Regions from separate parts of the Homo sapiens genome. Here regions 2, 3, 4 and 5 are each reported to be linked to region 1. Evidence: microRNA targets listed by miRTarBase, many of them from high-throughput screens and not tested one by one. Region 1 holds a microRNA gene; each other region holds the end of a gene's coding sequence.
The links. Region 1 holds the annotated microRNA hsa-miR-4270 (UCAGGGAGUCAGGGGAGGGC, at 2,410-2,429, opposite strand). A microRNA usually pairs through its seed, bases 2 to 8, with sites in the 3' UTR of a target mRNA and lowers its output. Matches are read on the target gene's strand: a 7mer-m8 pairs with bases 2 to 8, a 7mer-A1 pairs with bases 2 to 7 and ends in A, and an 8mer does both.

Region 2: the mRNA of KRT80 is a reported target of hsa-miR-4270. Seed matches in the 3' UTR shown: 7mer-m8 at 3,274-3,280, 7mer-m8 at 3,209-3,215 and 7mer-m8 at 2,626-2,632.
Region 3: the mRNA of TSPAN11 is a reported target of hsa-miR-4270. Seed matches in the 3' UTR shown: 7mer-m8 at 2,874-2,880, 7mer-m8 at 3,530-3,536 and 7mer-A1 at 4,738-4,744.
Region 4: the mRNA of SV2B is a reported target of hsa-miR-4270. Seed matches in the 3' UTR shown: 7mer-A1 at 1,261-1,267.
Region 5: miRTarBase lists MED7 as a target of hsa-miR-4270. The part of its 3' UTR that is shown has no 7-base or 8-base seed match.

The regions. Positions count from the first base shown.
Region 1 is chr3:15,493,870-15,499,945 of GRCh38, forward strand. MIR4270 (microRNA 4270) reads right to left here and starts at 2,439; the gene lies at 2,370-2,439. The region is part of intron 1 of COLQ (collagen like tail subunit of asymmetric acetylcholinesterase); the gene reads right to left.
Region 2 is chr12:52,167,363-52,173,438 of GRCh38, forward strand. It overlaps KRT80 (keratin 80), which reads right to left. Exons shown (of 9, transcript NM_182507.3): 6 at 5,676-5,801; 7 at 4,836-5,056; 8 at 4,296-4,351; 9 at 1,634-4,160. The coding sequence ends at 4,036. Among named protein-coding and RNA genes, the nearest start is that of KRT80, 22 kb to the right of the region's middle.
Region 3 is chr12:30,989,758-30,995,833 of GRCh38, forward strand. It overlaps TSPAN11 (tetraspanin 11), which reads left to right. Exons shown (of 8, transcript NM_001370302.1): 8 at 2,099-6,076. The coding sequence ends at 2,158. All of the region lies in intron 2 of TSPAN11-AS1 (TSPAN11 antisense RNA 1), which reads right to left. Among named protein-coding and RNA genes, the nearest start is that of TSPAN11-AS1, 13 kb to the right of the region's middle.
Region 4 is chr15:91,290,871-91,296,946 of GRCh38, reverse strand. It overlaps SV2B (synaptic vesicle glycoprotein 2B), which reads right to left. Exons shown (of 13, transcript NM_001323032.3): 13 at 1-4,578. The coding sequence ends at 4,395. Among named protein-coding and RNA genes, the nearest start is that of CRAT37, 170 kb to the left of the region's middle. RefSeq lists an enhancer at 4,934-5,228.
Region 5 is chr5:157,133,290-157,139,001 of GRCh38, reverse strand. MED7 (mediator complex subunit 7) reads left to right here. Exons shown (of 2, transcript NM_004270.5): 2 at 1-1,578. The coding sequence ends at 272. Among named protein-coding and RNA genes, the nearest start is that of MED7, 6.7 kb to the left of the region's middle.

The sequences.
Region 1 (6,076 bases):
GGTCAGGAGTTCAAGACCAGCCTGACCAAATGGCGAAACCCCGTGTCTACTAAAAACACAAAAATTTGCTGGCCGTGGTGGCACATGCTTGTAATCCCAGCTACTTGGGAGGCTGAGGCAGGAGAATTGCTTGAACTTGGGAGGCAGAGGTTTCAGTGAGCCGAGATTGTGCCATTGCACTGAAGAGGAAGCTCTTATCTTAAAGGAATAGTGACTGTTGGGGTCAGGATGCAGGGAAAGCTGGAAAGTTAATTTGGGGCTAGATTGTGCTGTTTTGGATACCCCACAAAAGGGTTTAGGCTTTAATTGGAAAGTCGTAGGAAACCACGGCAGGTGCAGGGTAAAGGAGTGACAGGATCAAAATGGTGCTGGAGAACACTGTGTGCAAGGAAGGTGCAGGTGTGGGGAGGACAGGCTTGGAGAATGGGAGCATGCAGCAGGGCACGGGACAGGAAGGGAGGGACTGATGCAGAGAAACGGGGCCAACATGTTGCAGGAGGGAAGAAGCAGGAAGAATCAAGGGTGGTTTTGAAGTTGCAGGGTACCCAGGGCAACAGTGGTCAGAGTTTGAGAAAGAAAAGTCACAGCAGGCACTAGTTTATGGGTGTTAGACATTTATTCATTTGAGCACACTCTTTGCCAGGCACTGGGCCAGGCCTGTGGGAAGCAGAAAGTACCTAAATGGCATCTGTAGTTGGAAAGGCTTGCAGAGCTCAGAGGCCTTCTGCTTGTACCCCACTCCCTGCCCTCCCACAAGCAGCCTCCACTAGATGCCGTCTCCACCAGGAAGCTTTCCTTGACTTCCCAGGCAAGATTGAGTGGCCCTGCTGTTTTTCTCTGGGTTTACCCCTATGTTAGGTTTCCTCCATGGGGAAAAACTATTTCCTTGTATCCCTCTGACCAAACTGTGCTTTCTGGGAGAGCAGGAGCCAGCTTTTATCCCCAGGGTCTAGCACTGTATCTGGCATATGCTAGACACTCCACAAACGTTTGCTGAATTAATAATGACAAACACCACATGCAAGGCACCATTTAAGTGATTCACACATAGAAATTCACCTAATCCTCACAGCAACCCTAAGAGCTAGGTACTACTCTTGTTATCATCATCTCCATTTTACAGATCCATTAACTGAGGCAAAGAGGTTAAGCAATTTGTCCGAAGTCATATAGCTAGTAAGTGACAGAGCCAGGCAGTCTGGTTCCGGAGCCCTTCCTCTTGAGCTCTACACCATGACTGCATGTGGTAGAAATGAAGGTCTGGAGCTTCAAGTCCCATAACAACAACTTGGGGCTATAGCATCAGTGCCCTCCAAGCAAAGGCTTCAGGGAACCAAGCTGGGTTTATTGACTCACTGCAAAGAGGGAGAACACACACCGGAAGGAACCGTGGGGCATCTCAGTTAGAGGATGCTGGGAAGGACTGATCCTAGGGTTGGGGATTTTGCTAAGTGATGGAGGGGAGACTGAGGAAATGAAGTCTGGCTTCACTCTGAATTGGATGCCATCAGGAAGAAAGGGCCATTCTATAATTGAGTACCTTAATTCATATCTAGAAGAGAGTGGAGCAAGACCAAAGCTGTGATTGGTTTTTTAAACAGCAGCAATCACTCATATTAGCAAGGATAGGAGAATGTTTAGTTACTTTTGTGGTTGGATGATAGTCCTGTTTTCGTCTGTGTTCAGTTGTGATTATCAAGTGATTCTTACTTTCTTCTCAATCCATCAAGGTCACAGGGTGACCCTGTCTGAAGTTGGTGTTCTGTGACATCGCTTCTGTGTTGCAAAACACCATGCCGAGCTCTGAGAGTCAGGGCAGCTCCAGCTGTCACGGGCTACTTTTCTCAGTGGTAAAATAATATGGATACATTGTTCCCGAACTTGACATTAATGCCAATGTATTCCTCCTCAAGCTTCTCCAAGTTTCCTAGAGTGTTGAGTCGCTAGGAGTGGGCAGCTTCAGTTGTAGGGTGGAGGAGGCTGGCAGGTTCACACCAATCCCGGAACGTTTTTAAGGTCCCCTGGCTACAGTTTCTCCTTTGCTTCTCTTTTGCCTCAGCACACAGCTAAGGGCTGAGGCTGCAGTGTTCCAAAAGCACCTGGGAGGCTGGCAGGCCCACACTGCTAATATGCACTCATCACCATTATTTTTCCAGACCATATATGGCCTCCAGTGCCTTCCTTCACCCAGCACCCTGTGTGGCCTTCCACTGATGAAGGACCTTGTATCATTTAAAGCAATCACTTCTCTCCTTTCTTCCTGGAAATTGGAGACCTCTTCAGTGACCACAAATTATCAGCTGCATTTCTGGCTGAGGCTTCTGCATTGTTCGGCTCCCCCACCCCATCCCCCTCACCCTTTCCCCCTTGACCCACTTTCTTCCCAGCAGGGGAAGGCCATCTATTTCTGCCCTCCCCTGACTCCCTGAAGCTATTTGTTTTTAGGAGCCTAGTTTATTTACAGCTCATTCCTGTTCAGAATATTTCCATCAGGTGGACGTGTTTGGGAGCAGCTTCCCCCTCCCTCCTCCCTCCCAGTCAACTAAGCCAGGACTTCACATGTCTATTTTGGTGTCATCCGAGTGGCCTGTGGGTCTTTCTCATGGACTGTCTCTATAGAATTGTGTCTGAGCTCAGGCTCCAGTCTGGAAAAGCCCCGGAAGGCTCTGTTGTATTGAAAGCAATCCTGTGCGTATCTCCGTGGAGCCTGCAGAAACCTGGGAGCAGCACGTGGCTCAGCACCAGGCAGCTGCCTTGGAAATGCCAACCATCACGGAACTTCAGGACCGCATGTCCCAACTTAAAGACATCAAGCTCATGTTGTATGTGGCCAGTGCATTGCCAAATTATGGGTAATTGTTTAATGCAGGCTTTGGCAAGTGTTTGAAGCTTTTGTTGTCGATGATGCTGGTTTTGCCCTTTGGACTCAATACCCATTCTTGAAAAGGAGACTTTCTCTTGTTTCATTTCAAGAAACTGAGGCACATCTTTGGAAAGCGATTTTCTCCAATTTACTCTTGGAAAGACATGGATTTGATTAAAGAGTGTTAAGTCTAGGTGCAAGTGGCCATGTGAGCCAGTACAACTCACTTACTCAATCTGAAACTTAGTTTCCTCATCTGTACCACAAAGAGTTTTGCCCAAATCATCTCCAAAGTCCTTTTGCCTTTTTTTTTTTTTTTTTTTTTTTTTGAGACGAAGTCTCACTCTATTGCCCAGGCTGGAGTGCAGTGGTGGGTTCTCAGCCCACTGCAACCTCCGCCTCCAGGGTTCAAGCCACTCTCATGCCTCAGTCTCCTGAGCAGCTGGGATTACAGGCGAGTGCCACCATGCCTGGCTAATTTTTGTATTTTTACTAGAGATGGGGTTTTGTCATGTTGGCCAGGCTGGTCTTGAACTCCTGACCTCAGGTGATCCGCCCACCTCAGCCTCTCAAAGTGTTGGGATTACAGGCATGAGCCACTGCACCTGGCCTCCTTTAGTCCCTTTTTAAAATAAGTATGACACCAGAACCACCACTGTATCCATCTTCATCTACCCTCTTGCAAGGCCAGCCCCACAATAGGTTACTGGAAATAGCCATTTCCATTTCTGCCTTCTGTTTTTCCATCAAGTAGCCTTCCCTCCCACCCCCTCAATCCAACAAATGTGTCATTAGAAACTGTCAAAGGAAAGAAGTGACATAAGCATCCTGCCTCAGCAGGTTGAGAGAATTACAAGTGCAGCCATTTAACTGTTCTGCACCTGCCTGTCCAGTTGGTGGACTAGTCAGCTTTTTACTTCCTCCTCCTCTTTTGGGGCCTTTCCCTGCCTGTGGGAACTTGCATGAGAGAGACAGACCCCAAAGAAGAGAGAAAGCCAAGGGCACACGCTGTATGGCAGCTCAGAGTGCTTTGACTTTATTGTAGTGAGTTGGGTCTCAGCTACAGTAAAGTTCTTACATTAACTGAATGCAATTTGCCCAAAATTCCCCCCAATTCACATGTTCCAGAGAAGGCTGCACCCTACAATTTTCCTTCAATCCCCACAACAAACCTTGAAAGACAAATTCTGATCCTAAAAGTTGCACGTAATTTGAACTTCTCTGAAAGAACATGGTAGAGTTTGCCTTCTGCTGTATGTCCCTGAGCAGGCAAGGATACAACCTACAAAGAACAATTTGTGGTTTGGTGGCTGTGCCTCTGAGCCAAATTACCCAAGGCAGTCCACTCAAGAGTGATGGAGACTGTCTCAGCCACCCAACGCCAGCGGGGGCCCAGACTACAGAACACGATTTTACTTCAAAGCCAAGGTACCAGCTGCCAGCCAAGGTACCAGCTGCCAGCACAAGGTACTTGTGTCAGTCAAGGTCACAAGAGGGACACAGACAAGTGCACACACCCGTTAGCATGTATGCCAGGTCCCCACCAACTCTACTGTGAAACCCCTTTGCATTGCAACTTCAACACTGGCTGAGCAGTTTAAAATTTAAAGGCTTTCACAATGAGAAACAGCCCTGTGAAAGAAAAACTTAAAAAGAAAAAAAATTTAAAGGCTGCTAAAACCTCCTAGTACAGTCTGCTTTCCAAGAGTCTTTTTTCCAAAACAATGCATGTGCATCCACACACACACACACACGTGCACACACGCACACACAACTCACCCAAGCAGCCTGCCGAGTAACAGAGCAGTCCTGAAATGATGAGCAGATGAGCGAGGCTGAATGATGAGCCCGTCATTGTGAGGCAGGGCCCAAAGCGGACTGGCCAGGGAACACTAGCCGGAGACAGGCTGAGATTCGTCACGCCTCTGAGTGCTCCCAGTGCCTGGCCTGTTTGGCATTAGGGGTGGGAGTTGGCCAATCCCTGCTTTGATGTTGCTTCTGCTCCAGATGCCAGGGGTCTGGAGCCAGTCCTGAGCTCCTGGGAGTAGCAATGGGTAGGCAGCCCTGCTCCAGCTGCCCATGAACACTGCTGTAGGGGAGGCTTGGAGGACAAGAGTGCCTTCAGCCCAGGGGAGGATATGAGGTTGGGAGCCCAGGGATACTTATCCCCCTGCAAGCCAAGAGGAAATTGAGAGCAATCAAACAGGCTGCTTTTCATTTGGCTCAAAAACCGACTTGACTCAAAATACCACAGCAGTATTGACTGCTCTGGTAAGCCTCAAAGTCAACCCCCCACCGAGACCGTCCAAGGGGAGCCTGCCCTCCTCTGCTTCAGGGAAGACCTTCATGGCCAGGGGTCTCAGCTCTAATCCTGTCTGGGCCAAAGTGTTGCTGACAAAGCTAAACGTAACTAAAACAACAACAACGAAACCACAAACAAACAAAATATATAGATTTCCAAAGGGCATGTAGGCAAGTCTTTTTGGATGAAGCGGCATATACCAGTTACATGCTTAAATCTATCTGGTACTTTATAGGCACACCCAGTGCACAAGCATGGACACACACAATATTTTAGATTATAAAAGACAAGATTATTATTATACTACTTAGCAATAAGCACTGTTGTTTTGATCAGCTTAGTAAAGACCATAAGCTATAGCAGGAGTCAGCAAACTTTTGCTATAAAGGTCAACATAGTAAATATTTAGGCTTTGTGGGTCACATGGTCTCCGTTACAACCTCACTTTGCCATTGTACAGGACAGCAGCCATAGACAATACATGAAGGAATGAGATTGGTCATGTTTTGTAAAAGTTTACACAAATATAGGAGGCAGGCTGGATTCGGCCCACAGGCTGTAGTTTGCCAAGCCCTGCACTATAACCTTCAAAAGAAAGGACACTTATGTTCATTCATTCATTTACTGTTTTATTCATTCAGAAACACAGTAAGTACCAAATTGTGCAAGACATAATGACTAGACACAGTTCCCGCCCTTGGAATGTGTCGTTCAGTGTCACGGGAAGAGTACTGGCCCTGGAGTCATCCAAGTTGGGCTTAAGTCCTGGTTTTGCCACTTAGTAGCTGTGTGACCTTGAGGAAGTTATTCATTCTTTCGGAGTCTAAGCTTTCTTACTTATAAAGTGGGCGTGCAAAGCCGACTTTGATAGTTTGCTGTGAGGATTAGAGCTACAGCTTTTGGAATTCCTG
Region 2 (6,076 bases), not on the chromosome of region 1:
TTATGTTGACTAGGTGGTCTCGAACTCCTGGGCTTAAGCAATCTTTCTACCTCGGCCTCCCAAAGTGCTGGGATTTCAGGTATAGCCATCACCTGGCCTCATGAAATTCTTGACTATGAAATTCATATTCATATTCAGAAATTCAAACTCTGACTCAGAAATTAATAAAACAGAAAACAGAGATAAAATGAGAGAGCTGGTCTCAGCTCTAGGCCTCTCTTGGACGGGTATGTGGCTTATCAGTCTCTTCAGAGTTTTGAGAGTGGAGCCTGCCCTTCAGGGTCTTCAGGAGAATGGATAAACTCAAGCCTCTGAACTTTAGCCCAGGGGCCTGGCTGTGCTGTGCTCTTAGCCAGCACGAGGTCTATTTGCTTGCATTTGAGTCTCCTGATTAGTTGGTCACCTTTAATCCTTAATGTCTGCTGTAATAATCACACCATCACTAATAATCCTTTACAATTGTTGAGCTATTATAGTTCAGAGTGACAGAAGCAAGAGATGTGGCTTTCCTGAAATGAATAAACATAGCCACCTCATCAAATGCCCAAGCACCCCGTGAGTTAAGTAGGGAAGAGGTGTGCCCCATTTTACAGATGAGGAAAGTGATGCTCTATTTGCCTAAAGTCTCCTTGCTGGTGAGTGGGTGGGCCAGGACACAAATGCTGCCACGTCCCTTCCCGCTATTCCTTTCCTTTGAGACAGACACCTGTTCCTGCTTTGGTCTGTCTCCTAACTGAGATCCTTTGTGTTCACTTAAAGTCCCCCTTCTTCTAAGCAGCCTGTTCTGATTCCCTCCACAAGCCCTTCTCTTCCCTGACCTTTATAGCACCCACTTCTGCACGTGGTGACGAAGTCCAGGGTGGCTACCTTGGGTGGATATCTCATCTCTCAGCCTGACTGTGAACTACTTGCGATTGAGGGGTGGACCCCTGTCTTGGAGGAGTCTTAGCACAAGGCTGGGCTTGGAGAAGGTCCTCAATCCTTATGCATTGACTTGGGATTTGATTTGGCAGGATTGGGCCCGTACGCATCAGAATACATTCTGGGCTGTGTCAATTCCCAGTAGGGCAGAAGTGCTTAAGAAGAAACCCTGCCACCACTGGGGAATCCCCAGCATGTGTGCTGGCTAAAGCAGCCTGTGTGGTGCCTGGATATGTCAGGAGGCGCTGGGAACATAGGTCAACGTTGGTGCAGTCTCAGTGCAGCACAGTGTATTAGTCAGCCCAGGGGCCTGGCTGTGCTTATAGTGTGTTCTTAAACACACTATAAAGAAATCCCCTGGCTGGGCGCTGTGGCTCACACCTGTAATCCCAGTACTTTGGGAGGCCGAGGCGGGCAGATTACTTGAGGTCAGGAGTTTGAGACCAGCCTGACCAACATGGTGAAACCCCATCTCTACTAAAAATACAAAAGATTAGCCGGGGATGGTGGTGGGTGCCTGTAATCCCAGCTACTCGGGAGGCTGAGGCAGGAAAATTGCCTGAACCCGGGAGGCAGAGGTTGCAGTGAGCCGAGATCCAGCCACTGCACTCCAGCCTGGATGACAGAGCAGGATTCTGTCTCACACATACACACACAGACACACACACACAGACACACACATACACAAAAGAAAGAAATCCCTGAGACTTGGTAATTTATAAAGAAAAGACATTTATTTTGGCTCACAATTCTGCAGGCTGTACTGGCATGGCACCAACATTTGCTCAGCTTCTGGTGAGGGCCTCAGGAAGCTTACAGTAAAGGCGGAAGGTGAAGGGGGAGCAGGCATATCACATGGCGAGAAAGAGGGGAGAGGTCTCAGACTCTTTTAAACAACCATATCTATGTGAATTGAGTGAGAACTCACTCATCACCAAGGAGATGGTGCTGAGCCATTCATGAAGGATCCTCTCTCATGATCCAAATACTTCCCACCAGGCTCCACTTCCAACACTGGGAATTACATTTCAACATGAGATTTGGAGGGGACGAGCATCCAAACCATATCAGATGGTGAGACAGGAGAACTTTGTGTGTACCAGCTGCACTGGTCTGAAGATATAACTAAGTCCCTGGACTTTTTCTCCCTTAATTGGAGAATTCCTAATGTTCCATGATCAGCCTGATTGACCAGTGGCTGACTGGTCCTGAGAGGGGAGATAAAAACAGACACACAGCTTTCTCCATAGACAAATCTCAACACTTTATTCATCCTGTGGCAGCAAGAAGGGGACATGGCCCCAAGATAGCCAATCAGGTGAGGTGGCTGGAGTATGTGTTATCTTTCCAGATAGTACATACAGACTGATCATGCAGAAACAGGAAGGGAAGCAATAAGTTAAAAGCCACATAAGTTATGAAAAAATAATATATACTTTATATGTCTTGTATCCCCACTGAGGATTTGCTCCCTTGGAAACCAATGAAGAGCCTGAGGAAAAGCACCAATCAGCACCCTCTTTTGGGACTTTGGGGATGAGAATCTCTGAGTTCCCATGGCCAGAGAGTCAGTAACCCTCCAGTGCTCCCCACAGGCCTGGAGGGCCTTGAGGCCTGGGATGGGCCCAGACCTCTGGCCAACATGTCCTGGCAAATGAGATGAATGAATCTAATGCAGTCTAGAAGAGGAGGTGAGGCAAGGGGCAGGGAGGGGAGAGGAGAGTGAAGGAGGGAAGGAAGCTGTGCAGTGGGAGGCTGGTGCCGCTGGGATGCCTCTGCAAGCCTCAGCATTGAGAGCCAAGAGGAGGAGATAGGAGTATGCCTGCCAACACCCCTGTCTTCTGGTGGGATGTGGAATTTTCCTCTCTGGTAGAACCCTTGTAAGGCTGTCATTTGGGCCCCACAGCTGGACCTCAAGGGCTTGGAAGCTCCCAGACTTGCCTGGACTGTGCCTTCTTCCTGGCCTGCTGGAGGCAGGGGGAGTGGGCATGGAGGGAGGAAGGGGAAGGAGTGAGAAGAAAGGAGGAGCTCTAACCCCATAGGTGTGGGGGGTTCCTGGGCTCCCCCATGAATGCCAAGGAGGGGAGGGCCAGGCTATTTGGCCCAGTGGAGAGGAGAACAGAGGCCCTGAGAAGTGAGATTCTTGGGAAGTGGGCCTGGGGCTTCACGGCAGGGGTGGGACCAGGGGTCTCCAAGGCCTGGTGCACCAAAGCCCGGTGCTCAGGCTGGGAACAACCCGGCTGGGGGCACAGAGCTCAGATCCAGGCTGGGTAGGACCCCAGCATGGCAGGGAGGTGAAAGGAAGATCGAATGCTCCTGCCCAATCTCAAGCTGCCATCTGGCTTCCACTCCCAGGGAGTTGATTATGGCAAGAGCAGCTTCCGGAGAAGCTGCTGGGAGCTGGCTGGGGGCAGCCCATCCAGTTCTGACTACTGCCTACTGGGAGGGACCCATGGGAGGAGGAAGGGATGCGGGTGTTCGGGCTGATCTCTGGGGCCTAGGCTTAGGTCCCAAATAGCCAGGGCCCCTCCTCCCTTCACTCCCTAATACTGTCAGGTCTCTGGGGAGCCCAAAGAGCACGGGAAAGCCAAGAGGGTCTTCAGCAGCCAGCCTTCCCAGGAATTCCAGATACAGGACAGGGCCCACGCCGTCCTCCTCGGCTCCCGCACATAGGTGGATGAGCCAGTCCCAGTCCCAGTTCCGAGGCAGAGACAAGGCAAGGCTTGAGATAGGAGTCAAGGTCAAGGATTGGGCAAGAGTCAGAGGGGCCTTGGCAGAGCCTGATGCTGGAGGAGGAGCCTCAGAGGAGCGAGGAGGTGGAGACAAAACTGACCCCTAATTCCGACTCACCCATCAGGAAAACCTCTGGCCAGAAGGTTGGAAGGATGGGACTGTGAGATACTGATATGGAGCGGAGTGGCTCTGAGGAGCTGGTGATGCTCCTCTCCCACCCTGGCAGCCCACAAAACACAGTCAGTTTTGAACCCCTCTCTCAGTTCAATATCAGGTTTTGCCTCTCTTCTCAACCTAGAGGCTCCAAGCTGCTTTCTTGAGTCTAGCTTAAGTCCCTCCTGCTGCAGTGGAGTGCCCTGGGGTTCCTGGGGTCCAGCCGCCTTACTCTGAGACCTCCGACTCCTGCGAGAAGTACTTCTCTGACATTTCGGTGATTTTGATCACGGGGCCTTTGCTGCCCTTCTTCTTTCGGGAGGGGGCCTTGGAGAGGCCTGATCTGGAGGCAGCTACAGGGAACATAAGGGGTAGGGGAGGGAAGGGGCTGGAGGTTTGGGAGCCACTTAAAATGATGCCTTTAGGATCATGATCCCCTACACCCTCACCCTCACCCCACCATGGGTTCTCGGGGCAAGAGGACTCACCGGTTTTGCACCTGGACTGCACAGCGCTGACCACAGTGGCTGAGGGCGAGTCCATCCTGGGGGTGGGGGACGGGGGGGTGGGAGAGGGATATGATGGGATGCGAAGAGAGCCTGTGGCTTAAACTCCCCTGGGGGCTGGCAAGTGGAGGGTAGTTCTTGGTGGTCACTCCCAGCCCTGGGGTTGCCCTGTTGTGTGGCCCTGGCTAGCCAGCTTGTCCTTCCTGGGCCTCTGTCCCATCTCCATGGCATAAATGGCTAATAGCATTGAGCACTGAGTTTTGACAGGCATTTGCAGGCATAATCACATGAATCATCCCTGCCACAGGTGAACCATGTTTATGATCAGCCCACTTTCCAGATGGGGAAACAGGATGAAATGAACTGGGCCAAGGTCCCAGTTTGTAAGTGACTAAGCCAAGACTTAAACCCAGGCCTGGTAGGCTCACTGTATCATATTGGAAAGGAGAACTGACTTTGTGTAGGCCTGGGCCTCCAGCCCTCCTTCCCCTGCAGCCCTTCCTCACCAGCCCTGGCTCTCACCTGCCCTCCTCGCCCTCCACCAGCTTCCTGTAGGTGGCGATCTCGATGTCCAGGGCCAGCTTGACGTTCATCAGCTCCTGGTACTTGCGCAGCTGCCGCGCCATGTCCTGCTTGGCCTGCTGCAGGGCGGCCTCCAGCTGGGCCAGCTTGGTCTTGGCATCCTGGAAGGCCAGCTCACCCTGCTCCTCAGCTGTCTTGATGTTCTCCTCCAGTTTCAGGCACTGCAGCCAGGAGGACAGAGTGAAAGGGCCTGTGAGCAGGGGAAGGAGGAGCGGGCCAGGGCCAGGAGTCGTCTCTGTCCTTGGTGGGGGTAGGTGTGGGGAGGGAGGGCTGAGCAATGGCATTTCTGGGTGTGGTAACTGGTTGCCATGCAGCAAGAGGGAGTTCAGTTAGACCTGAAGAGGCACCTTCCCAAGGCCAGAGGAAAGCACCGCAAGCCACTAAAGGAGCCTGTCCCGGCTGTCCTTATGGGGCAGCACCTGCCCTGAAGGTTTGTCCTGGCTGGAAGCTGGGACTTAGGCCTCTACTCCCTCCTCTCTGTGTAGTTGGTGGGGGTTCCCAGGAGGGAGGCAGTGGGCTCTGGGTGTGTGTAGTGTGGGGGCTTTCTAACGTTCCAGCAGCCTTGACCAGATTACAGAGTATTTTTGTATGCAGAGCGCCTCATAACTACTTTAGGAGGCTGTGCTATTATCCCATTTGACAGATTAGGAAACTGAGGCACAGAGGCGCTAAGCGACCCACACAGGGTCACTCAGTCATGTCTTGCCTGTATTCAGCACACATGACTGTGTGTCTCCCTGCTCTCCTCCCCGCCCCCAGGCGCGTCCCCCAGATACTCACATGGCTCTTGACAGAGAGGATCTGGGACCGCAGCTTCTGGATGCGCACATTGAGATCCGCGATCTCGCTGCGGCTGCTCTGGAGGCTGCTCCCATACTCGGCCGAGCGGGCGGCCTGCTCCTCCAGCTGGAGGTACATGGAGGTCTCAGTGAGGGGCAGCTCAGTGCCGCTCCCAGCACTTGTTACCCGCCTCTGCTTTTTCTTGCATCCTCCAGTCCCATCTCCAACTCTGCAGCCCACCACGCCACGCCAGGCTCCCTCAGCTCCCCCTTCCACCTCCCTTTCTGGGTGGCCTCTCCTGGCTGCCCTAGCTGAGCCCCATGGGCCATGCCCACATCTGGCCTAGCATTGCTGATAACAGCACCACCTTGAACTCCTGGAGGGCACAGACCAGCTTCTGT
Region 3 (6,076 bases), not on the chromosome of region 1:
CAGAAGCTCTGTGGCCCTTCCTTCATGCTCTCTGCTGACAGCCAGGTGCTGACTCAGAAGCCTCAGAGGAAGCTGAAGGCAGGACGGCCTCCCTGTTAAAAATGTCCCATGTGTGGCCAAGTGTCACACACAGGCAGCTGCCAGAAGATAGCACCAGGCACCATGTGGCTGGGCCTCCAAGCCGGGCCCAACCCCATCTGCCACCTCCAGCACCTGCGGTTAGCTGGCCTTGTGTTGTCTCTGTGTGCCCCCTGTTGGCTGCTGGAGCCATCCGTGCTGGTTTCTCAGTGTCCTCTGTCAGGAGGGAGATGGCAATGCCTATTCAGGAACCAGACTGGGTGGCATCCTGTACCCTCCACATGCTTCAGCGTGGTGTTCACGTGTGTGTGTGTGTGCAAGTGTGTGTGTGTGCATGTGGACGCAGTGATGAGGGTCTGGCCCACACACCTCTGCCCCTTACTGTGCCTGTCCTGGGAGGCTCGCTGGGAACACCCAGCTCACGCAGGAGCCTGTCTGCTGGGGAGTGTGGCCCCTCCAGTCCTCCCCCAGCAGGAGACGTACATTGCAGGCGATGCAGACATGGTTTCCAGCACAAACCTGTGCCGGTCAAACAGCTCCCTTCTGGCCTCCCTCTTAGCACAGATAAGATCCAGAAAATCCCACAGGAAAATCATCAAACCATGAGGTAGGGAAACCTGCATGGGTGGAACGGCATGACGGCCGCCTGCGTAAAGCTAGCGGGAGATGAGATAACCTCCTAAGCCGCCTTTCAGCCTGAGGCCCCAGGTGGATTAACACCAAGTCTGCAGGCTGAAAGCAGTGTTCACACTCCACGCTGTCCTCCAGGTTGGGAGGGATGGAGAGGAGGAAGGAGGGGAAGAGGATGGGCCCCTTCCACACTACCTCCCCCAGCTAGCTGTCAGAGACAGTACAGGACACACGCATCTCCACCAGCCTGCTCTCCTCCCACTGGATAGAGCTCCACCTGCATCCAGGTTTGCACCGGCAAGGTCAGGGCAGCAGCAGCTGCTAGGAAAGTCAGGACACTGTTTCAATACTTAGGAGAGCCACCTTCACCCCAGGTATCACGGGACAGTCATGGGGCTGCTTTAGCCCAGTGCCCCCTCCTGTGTGCAGAGAGCCAAGATCCAACAACATGTCATCATCATTATCAGGATCATAATCACATTACCCTCAATGCATCCTTGGGTGGGAGGGAGGAGAGGAAGAGGAGGAAGAAGGCAGAGGAGGGCCCATGAAGAGCAAGGAGGGAGAATAAAGCTCCTCTGCATTCTGGAAGTGGGAGAAGTGAGAAGGCGGTGTGCAGGGTGATCCTCCCAGGCCTGTGTCTGCTTTGGACCAGATGCTCCAGCCCCTTGTTCAGCTGTGGATACCGACAGAAGGGCTGGCAGACAGGACGCCTGGGGCCTGAGCTTGGTGCTGCATTCTACACTGATTGACAGGGTGAGCTCACCAGCTCTTATTCTATGCTGACTGACAGGGTGACAGCTCAGGAGGCTCTTCCCAGAGTCTCAGTTTCCCCCATGGCTCCTGTACACCAGCCAGAGCATCGAAGATGGACCTGAGTTTTGCTCTAGAGTCTAAGGACAGCAAAACACAGGCAGACTCTTTCCTAGAGAGACAGTCCACTTCAGACAGCTCTGATGAGGGAGTGGAAACATTACTCTTAGGGCCTAATTAAATCAGGCCATCTCTGGAGAAGATCTAGGACCACAGACCAGCAGCATCAACTGGGAGCTTGCTAGGAATGCAGACTCTCAGGCCGCCACTAGGCCTGAAGAATTGTAATAAGGAGGTCCCCAGATGATTCATGCCCATTAAAGTGTGCAAAGCCCTGCTCTTGGATAGTAGATGGCAGAATGTGGTTCCCCCAGGCACACCACCATCACCTGGGAGCTTGTCAGAAATGCAGAACCTCAGGTCCCACCCTGACATTTTGAGCAGTTTTGAGCAGGAATCTGCCCTTTGCCCAGGCCCCAGGGTATTCGAGTGAGCAGCACTGCTCCAGGGCCCTGAGGGCCGGCAGCTTCCAGGAGTTCTGATTTCTCTTTGCTCCTCTGCTCTCTCCACCTGGCAGATCTGCGGGATGGTTCTCACCTGCTGCTTGCACCAGAGGCTCCAGCGGCATTTTTACTAATGGCCAACCACCTCCTCTTCCAACTGCCCCTCAAGACAACATGTGGCCACATGCCATCTGCAAGGCCTGCAGAGTTAGCACCAGCTCCACTAGGGCCATAGATGCCCCCTCCTTTGTGCCTAGCTCCTGCGAATCCACCGAGTGCCTGAGACCATAGCTTCTGTGCCCACCCAGGCAGAGACCCTCGGCCCCCTCTCCTCCATTTCTGAGCCCCCATGGCCAGATCCTGGGCAGGGAAATGATCCTTTCAGGAGACAACCAGAGCCCCTCACCAGGAACGGGGGCACCCGTGGACTACGGGAGGGTGGCGGTTGGGTTCTCTGCTCCCTCCCAGCTCCTGAACCTGGAACAATCGGCAGAAAACCCAGGAACCCCGGCACTCCTGCATTCAGCACGGGATTCCCCCACCCATGCCCAGAAGCCCTGACCTTGCTGTTTCTGGAAAAAGCATGGGGTGGGGCAGGGAGGGCTGGCATTTCCCCCAGAAGACCTTGCCCTTTGACCTGCCCACTCTCCACACTGCCTCACCTGGAAAGCCATGTCCTGCTGGCCTCATTCCTTCCTGAAGGGCCTAGGAGTGGGGAGGCCTGGGTAGGGCAGCCACAGGCTGGGTAGAGCCGCCCTGGCAGGAAGCAGGGGGTAAGGTGGCCATACCAGCACATGCTGCACTAGGAGCAGAGCCCTGCACCTGCCTAGCTGCCTTCCTGGGAGAAACCTCCCTGGGAGACCATGGCCCCAAGCCCTGGCCTCTAGTGATACGCCCCTCGGGAATCTCCTGTTCCGGGGCCTGATTCTCAGGAACACCAGGTTTCAGACCATCTTCAGCACCTAATGTTGATGGGTGTCAAACATCTCCTGGAGTGGACCAACTCGCAACCCTGCAAAGTCGGAGCTGCTGAGAAGGGGCAGCTCTGAATAGAGGGGCATCTGCCTGAACCTCACTTTTCCTGGGGCCCTCTCCTTGACCCCGTAGCCACCACCACACTGCTTCCAGGGGGTCCAGCTCTGCTTCCCTTCCCACCTGTCCTAGAGTGGACAGAGCTTTTTCCTTGGGTTCTCTCTTGCATCACTAAGTTCAGCAGGGAATTTGCGGAATTTTCAGGAAGAACTTTCCCCAGTAATAAGGGAGAACAGAAAGAAAATCCTAGAAAATACAGAGTATCCATGCTGGCAGCTTTTTGTACAACACCCATAGGGACCCCCCCAAATGGCTATTACAAAGGGGCAGCCCATTCACTACACAAGAACCCCACACCTGGCTTCCACCCTCCCCAGCTCCTGCACTTCTCCCCAGAGCGGGACCCTCTTACTTCCCCCCATGAAGGGGGGCACCTTGTGCTAAGGCCAAGGCTGAGCGAGGTCCCAGCTCACCTCCCTGCTTGATCCAGATTGCACTGTGATGAGCACATTGCTGACCTAGGCCAGTCCTGGGGCAGGCGTGCTCTCTCTCCCATACATAGGAGTGGCCTCAAGGCCACCCAGTGCTGACCCCAACAGAGCCCTGAACTGTCCAGAAACTGCATCCTCAGCACAGGAAGTACCCACATGGACAGAGGGAAGCCCAGCCTCGGGGCCGGTTGCCTCCTCTTCTCTGGGTGTTCTCCAGTGGCTTCTTGGAGCCTAGGCTGGTTTATCTCCCCTGCCTAAAAGGCCCTGGGGTTGCCAATGCAAATTCATTAAAACGAAGACCAGATATCCCAGACTGCACAGAGGCCGAGAGAAATGGTATAGTGCGTGATTAGCATTGCTGCCCTCCAACCTCCTGGGATTCATGCAGATAATCAAAAACTGACTATGACTCCCAAGTTCTCTGAAGGATGAGATCACAACTGACAACTCTTACGACAGAGGGAGAGTGGTGAGAGAGAGAAAGAGGGTACTGGGCTAGAGCCATGTTCTTCCTGCCGAGGTGCCAGGGGGAGGCGGCAGTGGGCAGGGGGTGCTGGGGCCTTACCTGTCTGCCCTGGTGGGGATGAAAGACAGGTGACAGGCAGGTGCCCTGTGCACAGCCTTATCATTGAAGGCAGGCCCAGGACAGCCTGCCCCATCTGCCCCAGCCCCATGGGATGGTTGGTCCAGCCTGACTGGGGCAGGATTAGCTGCAATTCCTGCCCTGTGTGTCGTCCAGCCAGACTGCCTCTTGAAAGATGGCTTGTCCAAGCGGCAGACAGTGGTAGAACAACCCAGGGCTTGGAAATCTGACCTCCTTGTCCATGCCAACAGCCTGGGAGATGAGACAGGGTTAGAGGAAACAGAGGCCCAGGATACGGCAGGTTCTGCCTGGGAGTGTACAATGGTTGGAGTCCAGAGCCAACGATGTGGTCCCCAGCGGGGTGTGCCCCTCCTGCTGACGAGGGTACAGATCCATACCCAGGTCAATTCCTCCCGGGCCCCTGTTTGGAGGCTGCTACAGCCTTGAGTTCCTTGGAGAGAGAGGACACGCCTGTGGAATGTCACCTTCAGTCCCGTGCAGGCAAAAGGCCCCTGCACACCAGGGCCCTAGGAAAGCAGCATCAGGTGCTGGGATCCCACCCAGCTGGCACGGGCACGTTCTTGCCCTGCACACTCCATGCTGCCCTTCCCTGAGCTCGCAGGGGCAGACACCAAGAGAAGGGCGCGTCCCCGAGTCCCCTGGGTGACCTGTGTCAGGACAGCAGGCAAGAATGAAACGTGGCCTTGGCTGACGGGTTGGAATATTTGTGACCGTTCTTGTCTTTCTCCCTCCTGCTTCCCCGGCACCCTAGCCCCATCTCCAGGAGCCCCTCAGGCAGAGTAAGTGGGGAGTGTGTCCAGGGATTTTTTTGTGTTTACCAAGGTCCTGCTGTGCACTTAGAATCTGTCACCATAAATACTTATCTCGCAGTTACCCCAGCAAGAGGGTGTTATTTCCCCCATTTTATAAAAGGAAATTAAGGCTGGGCAAAGTTAAGACTTGCTTGTCAGTGGTCATGGCTGTTGTCTTGCCACCCCCAGCTGGGGAGAAGGAAGAAAACTGGGCCGGGAACCCCTCCCCTCAGTGTCCCCCAGTTCTCCATCTCCATAAGGAGCCATCAGGCTGTCATTAAGGAACAGAGTGTCACTCAGGGGGCACTGTCACAAAGCAGCACCCATGGCACATGGGCCGGGGGTGCAGAAGCCTGGCTTATTTCAGGCTGACAGCTGGACCCTCTGGGTGCAGGGGCTCAGGCAGTGGCCAAGAGCCCAAAGGGCTAAGGCCCGTGACGACCACCCAGCCCGTCACCCCAGGTACAAACACTGACCCCAAAGCAAGAGCAGGGACTGTCCCTCAGCCCTCAGGGCCTTCATGCAGGGTGCAGAATCTCATGTCCACATGGAGGTCACCCCTCAGGTCACACCCACTCCCAGAGCAACCCTGGGCAGGGAGGGGCACCCTGGGGTTGTGTTGACCACCTCCCCTTCAGGTGAGGCCCTTTTCTGCCTTCTTTCTAGCCCCCTGCATGGGGCACCTGCTATTGCTGGGGCTCTGGGGTGGACCCTGTGTGATTTCTGTCAGGGAGCTTGTGCTGTGCATGGCCAGAGGTGTTTACATCCAGAAGGGCCCAGCACGGCCCTGTGGGGTGTGGGGGGAATATGGTAGATCATTGTGATGTGCCTCGGGGCCCTCTTGCCTTGGAGCCAGCTTTGTTTCAGAATCTGCTACTTGGGCCCTCTTCAGGGTTTTGAGGCTGGAGAAGTGAGTTGGGACAGTCACTGTCATCACCACCCACCCTGTCACCCACCTGGAAAACATTCTTGATATACTGGCCATGCTGGGCCGGGCTCACATCCACTGAGGGTATAGTGACCAAGCGTCTAAACCAGTCGTTCTCAAACTTCGGTGAGTATCAGAATCACCTGGAAGGGCTTTTACAAACAGATTGCTGGCCCCACCCCCCAGAATTTCTCATCAGGAGTGGG
Region 4 (6,076 bases), not on the chromosome of region 1:
TGAGCGTGCTCCCAACGATCGGGCAGAAGGAGCATGCGCCCAACGATCGGGCAGAAGGAGCGTGCGCCCAACGATCGGGCAGAAGGAGCGTGCGCCCAAGATCGGGCAGAAGGAGCGTGAGCCCAGCGATCGGGCAGAAGGAGCGTGAGCCCAATGATTGGGCAGAAGGAGTGTGCTCCCAACGATCGGGCAGAAGGAGCGTGTGCCCATGATCGGGCAGAAGGAGCGTGTGCCCATGATCAGGCAGAAGGAGTGTGCTCCCAATGATCAGGCAGAAGGGGTGTGCTCCCAACGATCAGGCAGAAAGAGTGTGCTCCCAACGATCAGGCAGAAGGAGCGTGCTCCCAATGATCAGGCAGAAGGAGTGTGCTCCCATGATCAGGCAGAAGGAGTGTGCTCCCAACGATCAGGCAGAAGGAACGTGCGCCCATGATCAGGCAGGAGTGTGCTCCCAACGATCAGGCAGAAGGAGTGTGCTCCCAATGATCGGGCAGAAGGAGTGTGCTCCCATGATCAAAGGCAGCCACTCCAGCCCTGGCTTTCCTTCCTCCAGATTCCCTTCACATGAGAGTAAAACAAACCTTTAACTTACTATAAACTTATTATAAATTGGTTTCTTTGAATTTGCAGTCATATGCCATCCAACATAATCCCAGGTCAGTTAGCACAGATGCCCCCTAGAAAAGCCAGATGTGGAAGTGGAGACACCTTTCCCAGGGCTACGGGGATTCTTACCCCACTCACCAATGTCCCTCTTGCATTCCTGGCCCCTATCTCTTCTTCCATGTAACCCTTTCTGTAAAACTGATTAGGTAAAAATCGATTAGGTCTGTAGAAAATGGGCAAGGGCATCATTTCCCTTACCTGGTTTATAAAGATAAAAAATTGGTACACTCCTCAAAGAAAAAAAAATAAGAGGGAGCCACCACATTTGGAAATCCACAGCTGACAAGTAAAGTAGTAGCAATCCTTTTACACATGAAAGGTGCAGTTTGCGGATTGTAAGGTCATCGTACTCGGTGTTTATGGCCAATTTAATATCCGCTCACTGCAAGTGGAATGAGGCAGGAAGCAGAAACTGTGGCCAGTTTTTTCATCACTGTGTCCCCAGGGCTTGGCAGAGAGACTGGCCCATGGTCAGGGCTCAATAAGGATTTGCTGAATGAATAAATGGATGGATAAATACTAATCTTTTTATGTTTAAACTGATGCTTCCTCTCATTATAGTAAAGCCATCAAGGGAATAGTCAATGAATGGTCTCAGGGAATGGCGAGTATTTGTCACATTGTCCCATTCCCCAAACTGCAGGCTTCCCCAGAACTGTCATGAGAGCATCACCTTAGGCCTTCTCGCCCACTCCTCACATTACATGTAATCTGGGCCACATCGTTTAACCTCTCAAGGTCCCCATGTTGCAAAATAAAAGTTGAAGGAAGCGATTCTCAATGTTTCTCCCAGCTGATTCAATCAATTTTGGAATACAGAAGAGACCTTAGTGCCTGAAAATAATCTCTAACCCCAGTCCTTAAGGTTTTCTTACAGTTATTTTTATTATTTAGTTTTAATGAACTAACACAACGTAGGAGGGAACGCTGGGTTGGGGTTTACTTGTTACATGACCTCAGGATGATGTACTACAAACTTCACAGATAGGCACACCTCTTTCACTAATTATTTTTAATAAAACAAAAGATCAAAAATCAGCATCAGGAGATGACACAATACAGTTGAGACTATGGAAAGCAACTATTTCCAAGCTGGGCATCATAAAATACATCATCAAGAACTGTGAACAGATTTGCTAAACAAAGGAAAGCCTCATCCCTTTAACCCTCCACAGCCGACATCGGGAGTCTCTTGGGGTAGAACATGAAGTGAAAAAGAAGTGGATGGCCAGAATGCTGTACATTGTCCCCCAGTGACCTGCCACAGAGACTATTTTTAAAGACGCATTTATCTCAGCAGGAGTGACGGCATTTAAGAAGTAGCCCGGTACTCAGGCTAGACAATCCTGCAAAAGTCTGCAGAGCTTGGCTGCACCCTTTACAAAGACCTGAGTGATGGATGAGATGGGAATTGCCCTTGATTGGCTAGGTGGCTGGTTTAAAGAGCCATAAAGATAATGCAGAAGTGAGATCTTGGAAACCAAATGGAGTTAGCCCCCAAATTATTGCAGCCACCCCAGCACTCCAATGTTAATCCAATTTTAAATTTACAAGATCCATCTTAACTAGAAATGCAGGCTCTAACTGTCCTGCAAGTTTTTTAAGTGGTAGCTGCTCAATGAATTGTATTATCCCATTAAAGAATAATGTTTTAGATGTGGTAATCCCAGACTCACACAATTCTCTTTTATGAACCTAGCCACTGTATTCATATGGAAAGTAAATTACAGCTATATTACATCGAGCCTTTCATTATTGACAGAGCAATAAATGTTAGTACTCCTATAAAACACTGAGAGAAAGATTAATACACAGTGGTATATATATTTGGAGGAATCAGGGTGTCCAGTCAGAGTCAATATGTCTTCTCTCCCTGTACAGAAAAAAAGGGAGGGGTGTAAATAAAAAGGTGAGGGTTGACAGAAGGAGAGTAAACATTTTAACCATTAAAACTGATCTCAAATCGACGGTGGAAAGGTGTCATAAGATTTACCCCTACCAACCCGTTAATTGAGGAAAATTACAGAAAGATGTCCCGAAGCTATCATAGGACCTAAGCATTTCTCCAATACTGAGAAAACACTCGATATAGCCATTATTATTCTGTTTTAAATTTTTGGAGATCTCTGCCAGGGAAAATGTGGCACTTGCCCATTGAGAGCACTGCAAATCAACTCAAACAACTAGTTCTTGCAGGCTGATGTTCATCCGGCCTGGGCAGGTGCAAGTTCACCTCCGCTGGCAGTTGTGCGTAGCTCACTGTCCCCTCCATTGTCAGACAGTTCTGATGTTTTTCCTCTTCCATGCAGTCAAGACTTCAGTCTATTGCTGACCTTCATCAGAGAGGTTTGTCCTAAGCTCCTCCCCCAACCCACACCCCTGTTTATGTTCAAAGCTGGACTTCAGGAAACAGTTCTCTTAAGCACTGAAGAAAAACATATTTGGCATCCACTACACTCCCTAACTCCCACTCCAATGGACTCTGTTTCAAAAGCTCTGGACACATAGCATAGATTTCTCATGAGACCTGACCATCCTAACAAATATGGATTGCATTTGCATTTTACCACTAGAACAAACAAAAAGTATTTACATTTGGAAGAACTGTGGCTACACTTCCCCATCCTTCCCTCAGTCCCCATGTTGTTTGATTCTTGCCTGCAAAGAGTACCAGAGGCCACTGAACACATCTCACATTGTTTTTGGGTAGTGGCAAAGTAAAATGCCAGCACTGAAGATGGTGAGCTTGAGTTTCACAAGTCATCTGTGTAAGGGAGAGAAGTAACTACTCACTACACCTGCACAAAGAAAAGTGCCTGGATTAAGCAGACTGCACAATGTGAGTTTGTTAATTCATCCTCCCAACAGAAAGTTAAATGGCTGTAAGAAATTGTGCTTGCATTTCATTTGATCAGACCTCATTTCCTGGGACCTCAAACACCAAGTTCTCCCAAAATATGGCTAAAATGCTGGCAATATTTGCAGATACCAGTTGTGGAAATTAAACCCAAATAAAGTTATATACAAACTTAGTTTACAGAATAACTATCCCATTCCGTTTCTTTGAATAGAGCAAAACAGAAATAAATATCCTTCTTAAATGTATTACCTAATTATCATGGAAAGCCTAGGAGACATAGGAGAAAAGTAGATCTCTATAGATGTTGCTCAAATACTTGGCTTTCTAGATCAGAGTATCCTCAATGCTACTATGTCAATTTTCGAGTGGAAAATATGATAGGTGATACTTTTAAATGCAAAAATATATACTTCAAGCCCAATCTTCATATAATGACTCTAACTTCCAGCCAAGTTGATTTGTTAAGTTGTTGGGCTCCAAGGAGCTTTCTGGAGGAACCTGGGTGTTTCTGACCCTCTAATTCCTTTTCAAACGCAAGTTAAGTCCTTGCACTTGACTTAGAGAAATGCTTGCTCCTCGCATAGTGTGTGCACTCACTGGAGAATCCTCTCCCTGCCTTGGACTGGGAAGACTTGAAGTTAAACACGCAGCTCTGTGATTCTAAGGGTGGCTCAGGGCACCCCCAAATCAGTCACCTGAGTTACAAACATATTGACAGCTGAAGTGGGTCCTAAACTAGGGGTCACAAAGTCAACTTCTCCTCCCGTGCTATCCAAGGTGTCCTCCGGACCGTGATAGGCAGGAAGTGTGGATGCATTTCAGTGTCCTGGACAAGATTCTCTCGACCTTTCCTTTTCCCATAGGTTGTTCACATCAGGACCTGTTCTCGAGTCTCTGGCAGTCGAAGGGCAATCAGGCCACCCCCAACCAGAGAAGCAGCAGCCAGAAGGATGGGGACCACTTTGGTTATCCCAACAAAAGAAGCAAAGATGGTGTTTCCCAGGATGGCGCCAAATTTGCATAATCCATTGAGAATGCCGAAGGCTGTTGCTCTGTAAAAGAGGAATGGAAATAATTCTGACATTCTGAACCACATTAGATGAACAGGACTGGGCTCTTTCTTTTCCTTATTGCAGGGGGAAGAGGGTGCAAGGGAGTTTTTTTTCCTAAATATAAAAATAACACATTCTCATTGTAGTCAAATTTGGAAATACAGAATAATATAAAGATGCATGGATATCTAACCTCTTCACCGAGACACAATCACCTCTATTAACATTTTGAAGTATTTTCTTCAAGTGTTTTTCTTTTTTGTTTTTTTTTCAAAGATATCTATTTAAAACATTTTTATAGGTACTACATGCTTACTATGGAAATCTTGAAAGGATGAAGAAGTATACAAAGCAGAAAGTGTAAGTGTTCCCCCTTTTAACACTCTCAACCCTCCTGAAGCAGAGACTGCCAGTTGCCCACAAACAGCATTTCCCCAAATGTAGGACTACATTTCCCAGACTGATTTGCTGCTGAGCATGGCCATGTGACTTAGTTTTGGCCAATGGGATGTAAGTGCAAGTGGCAGCAGTTCCCAAGAAGCTTCCGTAAGAGACGTTGCGGGTGGGCCTTTTGCTCTGTTCCCCTTCATTCTTTTCCTTCTATCCTGCTTCATGATGGAACACAGATGGTTTCATTTTGGACCATGATGAGTCCATGCAAGGAAAAACAATGAGATAGAAAGAGCCTGCACCACCCACTCTAGACTTTTTCAGGAAAGAAAAATGCAATGCTTAACCTTCTTAAGACCACAGTTACCTGAGGTTGCTGTCAGCAACAGCAAAACCTAATCCTAATTATGATCTTTCAATCACACTTTCCAGTGAGAACTATTACTAATCATTTATTCTTTCATGACCCCATCTGTATGCAGAGGCAATATTCCCAATGCTACCTCTCCCCAACTGAAATAAAGCGTTTCTTTCTCATACCACAAGTTTATTAAGAGTGTGGGTATATTTTTGTTCTTAAAACTCTTCTTTCATTTTTGTCTATAACTGTACCACACTGTAGCTTTATATTCATCAACCCAGTCTTTTTTGTTTGTCTTAGTATCTTTGTTTTTGTATTTTCTTGGATCTTTTAACATATGTCCTTTTTTAAATAAACTTTTTTCAAGTTCCCAGAGGGGAAAAAAAACTTGTTGAATTTTGAATGAATTATTTTATGTTAGAAAAAAAACTAAATAAAAATTGACGTTTTTGTAAGATTGAATCTTCTTATCCAAAATTAGGTATATCTTGTCTTTTAAATATATATATTTATATATAATAATGTATACTAATTATATGTTATTAATTATATGTATTATCATAATTATATATAAATATATAATCCATAAATATATACATTTTCTGAGACAGGGTCTGTCTCTGTCACCCAGGTTGGTGTGCAGTGTTGTGATCCTAGCTCACTGTAACCCTGAAACCCCGGGGCTCTCGCAGCTCTCCCCCTCAGCCTCCTGAGCAGCTAGGACTACAGGCACATGCCACTATGCCT
Region 5 (5,712 bases), not on the chromosome of region 1:
GTCAACGGCTTGAAACAGCTGAGAGATTTCAAAAGCACCTGGAACGAGTAATTGAAATGATTCAGAATTGCTTGGCTTCTTTGCCTGATGATTTGCCTCATTCAGAAGCAGGAATGAGAGTAAAAACTGAACCAATGGATGCTGATGATAGCAACAATTGTACTGGACAGAATGAACATCAAAGAGAAAATTCAGGTCATAGGAGAGATCAGATTATAGAGAAAGATGCTGCCTTGTGTGTCCTAATTGATGAGATGAATGAAAGACCATGAAAGATGTTTCTTTTTCTTTTTTTCCTTTTGATAATAGCATCATATATTAGTTCATTTTCTTTTGGACAGTCTTAAGAGAAGTTTCACTAAAAATGTAAACAGCTTTAATCTTGACTCCAAATTTTTCAATTATGAGATGTCATAGGCAGTAATTTCGCTGTATAACAAGCATAGACAAATGAGTGTCCCTGCACTAAGAAGAATCACTTTAAAAAGCAAAGTGTTAGCTGCTGTTGTATGGGACATTCCTATGTTTTAGAGTTGCAGTAAAACTTTGATGATAACCTCAATAATAGCAAAGTTTTCGTCTTTGAAAAGGGGATTTAGCATTTGCTTTAAGAATGATAGATAAATGGATATTAAGCTCTCTACATGTAAAACTATGAAATCTTTAGACTTATTCCATTAAAAATTTTGCTTAAGCTCCAAAAAGTAGCATAACATGTTGATAGAGAGGAGCCCAGTAGAGTTATAAAATAGAAACTTCATTTTTTCCTCATGACTGCTTCTGTAAACCCACTAGCTCAGTCTTTTCTCCCTATCCTGAATGGACTCTTGCAGGGAAGTCCCATAAATTGTTGTTTTTTTTTCCAGTCACTCAGGTAATAAGTCCTTTGGTCACTTTAAGTTACAGACATTAATTTTAGTAATTAAGATGTCTGTGTCATTAGCTATACATTTTCTTTAAAGCTAAGCTCAGACTTGTTTAAGTCCACAATGGGAAAGGGGTTTGATGGCAGAGACTGCTAGGTGTCTACCAAAGATTCTTGCTCTTTGAAGATATGTTGTCAAGATGTGGCAATCCAGCCAGGGACATTTCCCTACTCCCAGCATCTCTGTGAGAACATATGACTAAGTCGTAGGCGGTGAAATGTGGGCATAGGAATCCAGGCTTGCCCCATAAACATTTCTTGCATGATCCTCCATTCTCTTCTCCCAGCTGCTGGTTGGACGGTCGTATCCAGGATAAGTTTGGAAGCCACCGAAGATGGCAAAGATTGTCAGTCTGGTTCTTTGAATGACCGTGAGGACTAAGTCTTCCTTTCAGTAACTCCACTCTGCCCCTAGCTAATTGGACTTTATATGAGCACTTTCTTCTCTTCTTCCCCCGACTGTCCATCTGCTCTTCCACCAAGGTGTTAGTGGAGAGTTGACCTTGTGTCTGAGGATCTCTGCCTGCCGTTTTCTTAATGTAGGCCCGTGGTTCTTAAAGTGTGTGGTCCTGGACCAGCAGCATTGGTATCACTTGGGGACTTACTAGAAATAAAAGTTTTAGTATAATCCGTAGGTTCAGAAAAATAAAAAATAAATGAGGGTTCTCTGGCTCCATCCCAGACCTTTTGAACCAGAAACTTCTGGGTGTAGGTCCCAGCAAGCTGTATTTTAAGAAGCCTATGTGATTATGATACATGCTCAAGATTAAGAAACATTGAGGCTGGGTGCAGTGGCCCACTCCTGTAATCCCAGCACTTCGGGAGGCTGAGGCTGGTGGATCACCTGAAGTCAGGAGTTCGAGACCAGCCTGACCAACATGGGGAAATCCCATCTCTACTAAAATACAAAATTAGCTGGGCTTGGTGGCGCATGCCTGTAATCCCAGCTACTCGGGAGGCTGAGGCAGGGAGAATCACTTGAATCTGGGAGGCAGAGGTTGTGGTGAGCTGAGATTGCACCATTGCACTCCAGCCTAGGCAACAAGAGCGAAACTCCATCTCAAAAACAAAAAAGAACCATTGAGAGGCAATGCCTTTCCCCAGATGTCTACTTTTTTATTTCTTCCTTAGCCCCTGGTTTCTAGCATAGGGATTTGCTCACTTAAACTTTCATTGGTCCTAGAGCTAGCAAAGTTCACATTAAAATGATTATAAGGGGCCTGGCGCAGTGGCTCATGCCTGTAATCCTAGCACTTTGGGAGGCTGAGGTGGGTGGATTGCTTGAGGTCAGGAGTTTGATACCAGCCTGGCCAACATGGCAAAACCCCGTCTGTACTAAAAATACAAAAATTAGCCGGGCATAGTGGCAGGCGCCTGTAATCCCAGCTACTCGGGAGGCTGAGGCACGAGAATTCCTTGAACCCAAGGGGTGGAGGTTGCAGTGAGCCGAGATCGTGCCACTGCACTCCAGCCTGGGTGACAGCAAAACTCTGTCTAAAATATATATATATATGTGTATGTATGTATATATGTATGACTATAGGTCAGTTCTCTATGAAATGTGCATGCTGTGCTTTCACAGATCCAGGGACTGTAAGTTATCCCTAGGTAGACACTTCTTTATCAGATAGGCAGTTGGTTGGCTAGTCTCAACTTTTGTTTTTTTCTGGTACGTAATGTGTTTGGTATAGACCTTTGGGCCTCAGAGACTCCAGAGGACATAGTTCAGGCTCTCAAGCTTAAATTGAAGTAGGGAGCATCACCTTGTGAGGGAGAAAGGTGGAAATTGCTTAGCACTTGAACAACTCTCCAAAGAAAATTCTCTTTCTTTGACTCTGAGAACCTTGAGGAAGGTGTTGGGTTGAGGTGCAAAACCAGTTTTTGGCCACTTTGAAAATCTTTGCATGTAAAAAACAGAATCACATAAGAGCCACAACACTACTTATATATGAACGTGTGTGTGTTGGGGGGAGGGGCGTTGAGGGATTAAAATGCCACTGGGGGGCCAGGCACAGTGGCTTATGCCTGTAATCCCAGCACTTTGGGAGGCTGAGGTAGGAGGATGGTTTTAGGTCAGGAGTTTGAGACTAGCCTAGGCAACATAGTGAGACCGTGTCTCTACAACAAATTAGAAAAAAAAATGCCATTGGGGAGGATCTGATCTTGCAGGTCTGTGACTAGGACCTGACATAAATTCCTAAAGTGTTCTGATATGAACTCTTGCTATTAGAGTGGAATGAAAAAAAAGCTCTAGTGGCCTTATATAAGGTCTTTTTAATCTTGTGTTAAAATATATCTCTGCACACCTACTTATAATGAATATTCTTGAAAGATTGATTCATTGAAGTGAAATATCTGGAAGGATCACCTTTTTAAGCAGCTTTTGAAATGACTAATGCCCAGGTCCCACACTGCGGAGATTCTGATTTCATTTTTTGGACTGGGGTACTAGCATTGGTTTTAAGAAATCAGAAGATGATTCTCTTGTGCAGTGGTTACAGAATGTTGCATTAATCAGTGCTCTGTTACTGCTGACAAAAACCCTACTTGAACTAATTTAAGCAAAAAGATGAATTTATATAAAGGATATGGGGTATGGGCTGGGTACGGTGGCTCACACTTATAATCCTAGTGCTTTGGGAGGTTGATGTGAGAGGATCACTTGAGCTCAGGAATTTGAGACCAATGGGGGCAACATAGTGAGACCTTCTCTCTCTTACAATTTAATTAAAAAAAGAAAGGATATGGGATATGTTGATTGAAGGATAAGTTGAATATATAAACCATGAGAAGGTCAGAAAGTGGATGAAGTTTTAAGTTAGTAGCCCTGGAGACCATCTTTCCTGTTAGCTTCATTCTCTTTACAGATGAACTTCTTTAATGATGTAGGTGGAGAACATGGCAGCTGACAGTTCCTAAGGGTTAAGTATTTCTATGTTTACCACTGTCTGGGAGTTCCCTCTCAAATGCAAACTTAAAAAAAATGAGGGGAGGTTAATTAACGAGCTAGACATGAGGAATTAGGGGTTGTATACTTGATTGCAACTGGGCAAATCAACTGGGACTTGGATCCCATAAGAATTTCACAGTCCCCGCTATGTCTATTTATGGAAGAGTCAGTCTGTCTCTCAGAGGAAGGAAGCGGTGCTGAGCTAACGATAACGAGAGATCTACTACAAATCAGGCACATGTGAACTTAATATAAATAACAAACATAAACGGATTGTACAAATTTGTATTCCCTTTATGAGAGTAGTTTTTCCCCAGCTATTCATTTATTCATGATATTCATTTGATGAATACTTACTGTGGTCTGCACTCTGCCTGATACTAGTTTAACTGTTGGATGTGTGGGAAGGGCGAAGGAAAATGTAAGAAAGATAATAAGACGAGTTAATTTTTGAAGGTGATAAGTTTGTGTCTTAACCACTCAGCCATTACAGCACCTTCAGAAGAATCTTGCTTCCAGTTATGTTCCTATTGCCTGTTCAAAGCACCTTGTCCACATTATCTTCCCTTTTCAAGGAATGTGTACATTTTTTTTTGTCTTTTAAAACTTTTTTTTTTTTTTTGAGATGGAGTCTCACTCTGTCACCAGGCTGGAGTGCAGTGGCGCAATCTTGGCTCACTGCAACCTGCAACTCCCTGGTTCAAGTGATTCTCCTGCCTCAGCCTCCCGAGTAGCTGGGACTACAGGCGTGCACCACCATGCCCAGCTAAGTTTTGTATTTTTAGTAGAGAAGAGGTTTCACCATGTTGACCAGGATGGCCTCGATCTCCTGACCTCGTGATCCACCTGCCTTGGCCTCCCAAAGTGCTGGGATTACAGGCGTGAGCCACCATGCCCGGCCTAAAACTTTTTTTTTCTTTTTAAGTAGAGATGAGGTCTCACTATGTTGCCCAGGTTGGTTTCAAACTCCTGAGCTCAAGTAATCCTCCAGCCTCCCGAAGTGCTGGGATTACAGGTGTGAGCCACCATGCCTAACCTCACATTTGTTAAGGAATTTAGAAGGCAACTTTGCTAGGCACGGTGACTCACACTTGTGATCCCATCACTGAGAAACTGAGGCAGGAGTATCACTTGAGTCCACGAGTTCGAGACCAGCCTGGGCAACATAGGGAGACCCCATCTCTACAAAAATATTTAAAAATTCGCTGGATGTGATGGCACATGACGGGTTCCAGCCATTCCAGAGGCTGAAGTAGAAGGGACACTGGAGTCCAGGAGGTCAAGGCTGCAGTGAGCCACAGTCATGCCACTGCACTCCAGCTTGAGTGACAGAGTGAGACCATGTCTCAAAAACATAAAGAAAGGCAGCTTCAACTCATGCACTGAGCCCTGAGGTTACTGGGAACGGCAGGTGCAAATATCTCATGAGGAGATAGAAAGTTGGCATAATTTGGATGAGAAAGGCTACTATGGCTGCAATATGGTGAGGGAGGAGGTTGGAGCTTCAGAAGCAGGTGGAGGACAGATGTGCATGATTTAGAGAACCAAGGGAAGGAATTGGGTTTTTATCTGAAATCTGATGAGAAATTATGTTTGCAATTGATTTCTCATCAGATTTTACTAAAATACAGAGAATCAGTAGGAAGGGTACTAGCTGTACTCTGATAGATTTCTAAGTACTGCAAATGGTGCTAAGTGCTTTGTAGCTGTTCTCTTATTTAATCCTTAGAACAATCCTGTGAAGAACCTTCTAAATCTGATGGTATTTATGGCTGTAAGTTGCTGGCAATGTTTTAATCTCTTTGTATAAATAAAGTCATTTTAGCCTTACAACTAC